Regions from separate parts of the Homo sapiens genome. Here regions 2 and 3 are each linked to region 1. The links come from fine-mapping of genetic effects on gene expression. A gene starts in region 1. Each other region holds a variant in brackets. All regions are shown on one strand. Distances are from middle to middle.

What was found. PIP is the estimated chance that this variant, and not a neighbour inherited with it, causes the effect.
Region 2: its variant is fine-mapped to the expression of MRPS25 in whole blood (TOPMed, PIP 0.94).
Region 3: its variant is fine-mapped to the expression of MRPS25 in whole blood (TOPMed, PIP above 0.99).

Annotation. Positions count from the first base shown.
Region 1 is chr3:15,063,575-15,066,339 of GRCh38, reverse strand. MRPS25 (mitochondrial ribosomal protein S25) reads left to right here and starts at 1,025. Exons shown (of 4, transcript NM_022497.5): 1 at 1,025-1,279. The coding sequence starts at 1,146. RefSeq lists an enhancer at 866-1,045.
Region 2 is chr3:15,131,662-15,134,426 of GRCh38, reverse strand. It overlaps the pseudogene RPS24P10. Among named protein-coding and RNA genes, the nearest start is that of RBSN, 34 kb to the right of the region's middle. The variant C/A (reference allele first, on the strand shown) is at 1,257.
Region 3 is chr3:14,997,380-15,000,144 of GRCh38, reverse strand. The region is part of intron 1 of NR2C2 (nuclear receptor subfamily 2 group C member 2); the gene reads right to left. Among named protein-coding and RNA genes, the nearest start is that of FGD5-AS1, 50 kb to the right of the region's middle. The variant A/T (reference allele first, on the strand shown) is at 1,120.

The DNA.
Region 1 (2,765 bases):
TCCCCGTCTCTACTGACAATACAAAATTAGCTGGGTGTAGTGGCGCATGCCTGTAAGTCCGGCTACTCGGGAGGCTGAGGCAGGAGAATCACTTGAACCTGGGAGGCGGAGGTTGCGGTGAGCCAAGATAGCACCATTGCACTCCAGAAGGGAGGGAGGGAAAGGAAAAACACTAACCTAGAATTCTAAATCTGGCAAAATCACTCTTCAAAAGAGAAGGAGAAATACCTTTCAGATCAAGAGTACTTCAGAAATGTATCTTTTTTTTTTTTGAGAGGGAGTCTTGCTCTGTCGCCCAGGCTGGAGTGCAGTGGCGCGATCTCGGCTCACTGCAACTTCCCGGGTTCGAGCGATCCTCCCACCTCAGTCTTCTGAGTAGCTGGGACCACAGGTGCTGCCACCACACCAGGCTAATTTTTGTATTTTCAGTAGAGACGGGGTTTCGCCATGTTGGGCAGGCTGGTCTCGAATTCCTGACCTCAAGCGATCCTTCCGCCTCGGCTTCCCCAAAGGCTGGGTTTACAGGCGGGAGCCACCGCGCCTGGCCCTAGAAATACATCTCACCCATAGTTTGTTTACGAAAAAATTGAGGTCCTGAGTTAAGTGGCTGAATTTAGGAAGGAATTGATCCCAAACCATCTTTTTTTCTTTTGCTAAGAAGTTTAAGTCAACGTCAGAAAGTGCAGTTTGAACTCTTCATGATAAAACTGGAGATGTTTGGGGAGAAAAATGGACAATACGTTCAATAGGACGTTATCAGCTGACTTGGTATCCAAACTGAGCTTTCCTGATTATTTCTTATTGCAATGTCTGACTTTTAGCCTATGTAAAAATATTTTCCCGTGGGTGGATGGGGAAATGACTAATTTACAGGACGCGACAACCTAAACCTTCCAAGGGGAAGGCGTCCTAAAGCGAAGCTGCACACACCGGTTCTCGCCGCGCCGGGTCGAAGGCCGCCTACAAGTCCCAGAGTGCTCCGCGGCGTGCGCTGCCCGCCGGGAAGCGTCTCCTGTGCGTCTGCGCGGGAAGTGGAACCTGGCTCTGGGGAGAAGCCGCGTGAGATCCGCGCGGGTGCTAGCTAGTCCTTTCTCGTCGCTGCTCGGCTCGCGGCCCGTGGGGTCGGCCCCGCCACCGTTGCCGCCATGCCCATGAAGGGCCGCTTCCCCATCCGCCGCACCCTGCAATATCTGAGCCAGGGGAACGTGGTGTTCAAGGACTCCGTGAAGGTCATGACAGTGAATTACAACACGCATGGGGAGCTGGGCGAGGGCGCCAGGTCAGTCGCAGCCCCGGCCGCCTGGCGAGCCGTAACCTGCTAGTCGTGCCAGCCTGCTGGTAACGTGAGGTCCCGAGTCGCTCTGGGCGGCCGTTCATCCCCGGGGCGGGCCCCCCAGGTCGGCGCTGTTACCCCCATTTTACAGAGGTCCAGACTGAGGCGGACGGCGGGGCCCCCGCCGGGCCGGCTGCAGTCGTGACGAGGTTTGGGGGGCGGAGGACAAGAACCCCACTCCTGGATCTCCTTCCTCCGGCGCGGTGGGCGAGGCTGACCCGAGGGAGGCCACCAGTTCCCTTGGCCCCTCTGGCCAGCAAGGCAAGCGCTGGGGAGGGGCAGCCGCAGATCCTTTCGGGGTGACGGGGGTGACACCCCAGGACGAATCTGAGGATAAAATGAGAGAAATAACAGCGGCGAACACTGATCATATCTCGCACAGTTCTGAATGCTTCTCGCGCTTTCTTTTTTCTGATGCCTAGAGAAACCCCAGCTTATCCCCACTCTAAGGCTGGGGAAGCGCACAGAGAGGTTAAGTAACTTGCAGCTCCACGAGACACCATGCCAGCCGGTGAGCGGTGAGCCGGGCAGTGTGGCCGCTTCCTTCGGGACTCAAGGTTTGGAAGGAAGTGATTAATTATGTCAGCTGTGCAGCGGCAGACCCTACCCCGACTAGAAGGAACTGTAGGGAACGCCTAGGATGTCTTTCAGCTTGGAGCAGAGTAGGGACTCATTGAATGGCAGTTGGCAAGTGAAAGGTTTGGATTGACCCTGAGGCAGCCCTAAGCAGTGCCTTAGGCTCTGCAGGTATGAAGTCTACATTTATTGAGTACACTCTGAGTGCTAGGCTGTGTGCTGTGTGCTGGGAGTTCAGCAGTGATGGAGGAGGCAGCCTTAGCCCGCAGAAACTTTGGGACTTGGGTGTATGTTGGATCAAAATGAGGCGTGGGGGCGGGGAGCAACTTCTTGTGGGGCATGGTCCCCTTGGTGACGGACCTTCACTGCATGGCCCTTCAAGAGATCCGGAAGCCGCTTCCTAGCCATTTGCTCTGCGCAGGTGAATCTGATAACTTGGACCTGCTTGCCTGGAATCAGCTGGCTTGATGGCTTCCTGGAAGACTTGGTCTTGGTCTTAGGGTGTATGGGCACCCAGATACTCCTTCATAACCTACTGCACAACTGTGCACACCTTTGTCCCCGGGCAACTGCCAGGCAGATAATGGGAAGGGGTGGGGGTCTCGGTGCGGCCCGCAGCGAGCTGGAGAGCACATGCCCTATCCAGAGGGCCCTTCACTGTTTGGCATTGTGGGCTCCGTGGAGAATTTCTCATTTGTCAAGAAGCTGAAATCTAGGTTTTTATGTAAATCTCTGGCTTTTAAATGGCCAGCCAATCAAAATAAGCCTGTGAGCCTCTTACTTACATTCTCAGATATTTTAATGTCCTCTAGGTAAATGGGATACAAACAGCCATTCACTGTTTCTTTGTTCCTGG
Region 2 (2,765 bases), 68 kb before region 1:
AGTATCTTTTCTCCTTCTACCAAACTTTGTCCCTGAGCCATCTCATCACCTATAACTACCTCCTCCATGCAGTTGATTCCCAGGTCTGTATTATTCTACCGAAAGTCCATTCCCCAACTTTCTCGGCTAGAATAACAGAAGCCCAATTAGAATTCATGCTACCAGTTTCCCACCACCACCACCACCACCGTCACCCTGCCATTGTTAGCAAAACCATCTCTTGAGTGGAGCTCAAAGATTTGTAATCTCCCACTCCCCAGAAAGATAACTTCAGACTCAGCCTAGAAGTAAAGATCCTCCAGATATGGCCTCAACTACCCTCCACCCCATGTCCCCAGTGCATCCCTTTGATGCCTCCTTCAGTGGAGTTAAAATGGAGTGAGTGTTTTTCTTTTCACATACTCCTGGTGTTCTTCCACAAATACAATTTTCACCTCTTGAATATTTTCAAGGATTCTCCATGCTACACACAGTGAAATCCAAACTCCCCGTCAGGACCCCAGTCTTCCCAAACCCTCTTTGCATTTTTCTGCCTCCATGCTTTTCCTTGGGTCATCCTCTTCTCTAATATAACCTTGTGTATTGTTCTAGGTTCTCCAGAGAAAGAGCAGAGAGATAGAGGTAGAGCTATACACATAGAGAGAGACAGATTGATTAGTTGTAAGGGATGGCTCACATGGTTATGGAGGCTAAGGAGTCCTGAAGTCTGCAGCCAGCAAGCTGGGGACCCAGGACAGCCAATGATATAGTTCCAACTCGAGTCCACATCTAAAGTCAGGACAAGATTGATGTCCCAGCTCAAATATAATCAGGTAAAAAGAGCAAATTCTCTGTGACTCTACCTTTTTGTTTTGTTCAGGCCTTCAGTGGATTGGATGAGGCTCACCCACATTGGGGAGGACAATCTGCTTTATTCAGTCTACCAATTAAATGTTATCCTCATCCAGAATATCTCAGAGACACACCCAGAATAATGTGTAGCCAAATATCTGGGCACCCCACAACCAAGTCCAATTGATACATAACACTAACCATCATGTCTTGCTTCTACTCTCTCCCCATTACTGCATGTCCAAATCCTTCCCTTATTTCAAGGCTTAGTTCAAATGTTACCTCTTAACTAAGCCTTCCCTGCTAACCCCAAATATTAATAGAATTGGTTTCTCTCTTCTCTGATGTCTCAAAATACGTTGTGTGTTTCTCTTTTACTGTATTTATTACAAACTCCCTTATAAATCAAGACAGTGATTCCCAGA[C/A]AAATTATCAAAAGAGTATAAAAGAAGTCTTCTTTGAGTGTGAAATATCTCATGGAATATAGCACATGGCCTCTTCATGAAGAAACTACTGGGAGAGAAGAAGACAAGCTGGAAGAGACCAGGGAAAGGGGGTTAGTACAAAGCACAATGAGGCTGGGCTCATACAGTGGCTCACACCTGTAATCCCAGCACTTTGGGAGGCCAAGGCCGGCGGATCACGAGGTCAGGAGATCGAGACCATCCTGGCTAACATGGTGAAACCCCGTCCCTACTAAAAATACAAAAAAGTTAGCCAGGCATAGAGGCGGGCACCTGTAGTCCCAGCTACTCGGGAGGCTGAAGAAGGAGAATGGTGTGAACATGGGCGGCAGAGGTTGCAGTGAGCCGAGATCGCGCCACTGCACTCAAGCCTGGGTGACAGAGCAAGACTCCATCTCACAAAAAAAAAAAAAAAAAAAAAAAAGAAAGCACAATGAAATGTCAGTGGATGGGTGCCTATAATTTCTAAGGGAAATAGAGTATAATCCAAGAATTTTATAGCCAGCTAAATTATTGCCCAATCAAAATAGGCAAAAGACATGATCACATGTTGAAGAACTTAAAGAGTACAGTATTTCTGAGCTCTTTTTTAAAAAAAAGTCTTCATAATGAAATTTAGTCAGCCAAGAAATTAAAAAATAAGCAACTTGTGAATTGAATGACCATGACAAAAGGCTAATTATGAGAGGTGAATCCATTTAAAAATAGGGCTATGATTGCAGAACAGAAAGAGAAGGTGGTCAACCTTAACAACATAAAATAACCTAGAAATAACTAGTTTCCAGAGGTAAAGGGAGGGACTGTAGGAAGTAGAAGCGCTAATGCCCTTTATTAAGTCAATTAATCAGGTCTAAAATTGAAACGTGGTTTTAAATATATAACTTCTTGCTTATTTTCCTCCCTAACTACCTGAGGATCAACCACCATGATAAATGACACAGTAACTATCTGGACCAGGAAGTTCATGACCAATCGACCACTCCAGAGGAAACAAATGGTCACCAATGTCCTTCACCCCGGAAAGGCAACAAAATGTACAAGACCACAATAGGTGTCATCTTCATATTAATAGTTGGACTCAGAACCCGTGTTGGTGGTGGTTAAACAATGGGCTTTGGCATGCTATCTGGTTCTTTGAATTATGCAAAGAAAAATGAACTCGAACATAGACTTGCAAGACACAGCTGGCATGAGAAGAAATGACCTCAAGAAAACAGCAAAAGGAATGCGAGGGCAGAATGAAGTCAAGAGACTGCAAAGGCCAATGTCAGTGCTGGCAAAAAGCAAAAGGAGTAAAGATTTTGCAATGACTTTATTTGCAGTGACTGTACAAATTTTTCATGAGATGATCAATCAACTGTGAAGACTTTTACATATATATAAAACATCTTAATATTTTTCATCATCTTTGATTTCTTAGATGTTCTAGAAACTGATTTTTAGTGAGGAAAAACTACATTTACCTGAGTT
Region 3 (2,765 bases), 66 kb after region 1:
TACAAAATCTTAGGAGGAATACTTTTCTTTTTTTTTAGACCTATTGCACAGCATGGCGAATACAGTTAATAATAGCCTATTGTACATTTCAAAATTGCTAAGAGTAAATTTCAAATGTTCTCATGGCAAAAATAAGTATTTAAGGTGATGGATATGTTAATGAGCTTGATTTAATTTTTACACATTGTAGTCACGGATCATAACATCACTTTGTACTGTAAATATATGCAATATAAACTCAATTTGTAACTTAAAAAAATTGCAGTACCGGCATAAAGACAAGACATACAGACCAATGGAATATAACAGAGAATGCAGAAATAAACCCTCACCTATATGTTCAAATTTGATAAAGGTGCCACGATAATTCAATAGGCAAAGAACAGTCTTCGACAAATGGTGATGGGACAAGTGGAAATCAAATGCAGGGGAACAAATCTGGACACCTACCTTGCACTATTACAAAAAAAAAAAATCAAAATGGATCAAAGATCTAAATGTAAGAGTTAAAACTATAAAACTCTCAGAAAACACAGGTGTAAATCTTCGTGAACTTGAATTAGGTGATTGTTTCTTAGATGACACCAAAAGCAAAAATAGCACAAGAAAAATTAGAAAATAATCATTAAAACTAGAAACTTTTTTTTTGGGGGGGACAAGATCTCTTACTCTGTTGCCTGTGCTAGAGCGCAGTAGCACAATTATGGTTCACTGCAGCCTCATCCTCCTGGGCCCAAGCAATCCTCCCAACCTCAGCTTCCTGAGCAGCTAGGATCACAGGTGTGTGCTACCATGCCGGGCCAATTTAAATTTTTTTTGTTTGTTTTTGAGACGGAGTTTCACTCTTGTTGCCCAGGCTGGAGTGCAATGGTGCGATCTCGGCTCATCGCAACCTCTGCCTCCTGGGTTCAAGTGATTCTCCTGCTTCAGCCTCCTGAGTAGCTGAGATTATAGGCATGAGCCACCACACCAGGCTAATTTTGTATTTTTAGTAGAGACAGGGTTTCTGCATGTTGGTCAGGCTGGTCTCCAACTCCTGACCTCAGGTGATCCACCCGCCTGGGCCTCCCAAAGTGCTGGGATTACAGGCGTGAGCCACTGCACCTGGCCTTAAAAAAA[A/T]TTTTTTTTTTGTTTTTTGAGACACGGTCTCACTCCTGGATGCCCAGGCCAGAATGCAGGGGCACAATCTTGGCTCACTGCAGCCTCAACCAACCTCCCAGGCTCAAGTGATCTCCCTACCTCAGCCCCCCATGTAACTGGGACTATGGGCGTGCGCCACCTAATTTTAAATATTTTTGCAGAGATGAGGTCTCCCTATGTTGCCCAGGCTTGTCTCCAACTCCTGGCTCATGTGATCCTTCCTCCTTGGCCTTCCAAAGTGTTGGGATTACAGGTGTGAGCCAGCGTACCTGAACTCAAATTAATGAGTTTTGTGTTTCAAAAGACACCATCAAGGAAGTGAAAAGACAACCTATAAAATGGGGGAAAAAAAAAGTGCAAATCATATATCATTACAACTTAATAACAAGACAAAAATCCCAATTTAAAAATGAGCAAAGAGTTAAACAGAAATTTCTCCTAGAAGATATACAAATGGCCAATAAGCACAGGAAAAGATGTTCCAAGGTCATTAGTTAGGGAAATGCAAATCAAGACCATGATGAGATACCACTTCATATCCACTAGGATGGCTACAATGTTAAACATGGACAATAACAAGTATTGGTGAAAATGTGGAGATGGGAACCTTCATACATTGCTGGTAGTAATGTAGAATGGTACAGTTACTTTGGAAAACAGTCTGGTTGTTCCTCAAAGGGTAAACACAGAGTTGCCATATGACCCATAATTTCACTCCTAGGTATATACTCAAGACAAAGAAAAACACATGTCTACACAAAAGCTTGTATACAAATGTTCACAGCAGCATTAGTGATAACAGGCAAAAAGTAGAAACAACTCAAATATCTCCCAAATGATGAATGGATAAATAAAACATGGTATATCCATGTAATGGAGTATTATTTGGCAATAAAAAGGAATGAAGTGCTGATACATGCTACAACATGGAAGACTCAGCCACGAAAGACCACCATATATTGCATGATTCTATTTATTTAAAATGTCCAGAATAGGCAAATCCATGGGGACAGAAAGTAGATTAGTGGTTGCCAGGTGACAGGGGAACAGGGGTAGCAAGAATAATTGCTAAGAGATGTGGGTTTTTTAGTGGGGGCATGATAAAAACATTCTGGATTTAGATAGTGGTGATGGTTGCATACTCTTGTGAATGTACTAAAACCCACTAAGCTGTATATTTTTAAAAAATGAATTTTATGGTATGTGAATTATATCTCAATTTGATAAAATATTATCAATTAATTCATTACTGGGCTATTAAATTTTTTTTTCTTTCATAAGCATACATTTTAACAACAAATTCACTACAATGAAGTCAACAGAATCCAGTATTTTTACAGTGACTTTTAGCTTAAAAAATATGGATTAGCTCTCTCTTGGCTAAGAAATAGGCAGGACAAGCACAACCATTTTATAGGAGGTATGGTGAGGCTGAGATCCTGCAAGGTATGTCTCCCAGGATCCATGTACACATAACTGCTAGCTCTGTTTATTTATAACTGAAAAGAAAAGGCTGGCCAATCACTTTATCAGAGCATATTCATTGCATCCTTTAATAATGAACATTTAAAATTTTGGTTGAGTCTATTAGTCTGCAAGTTAATTCTGCCAGTTTTAGATACAGT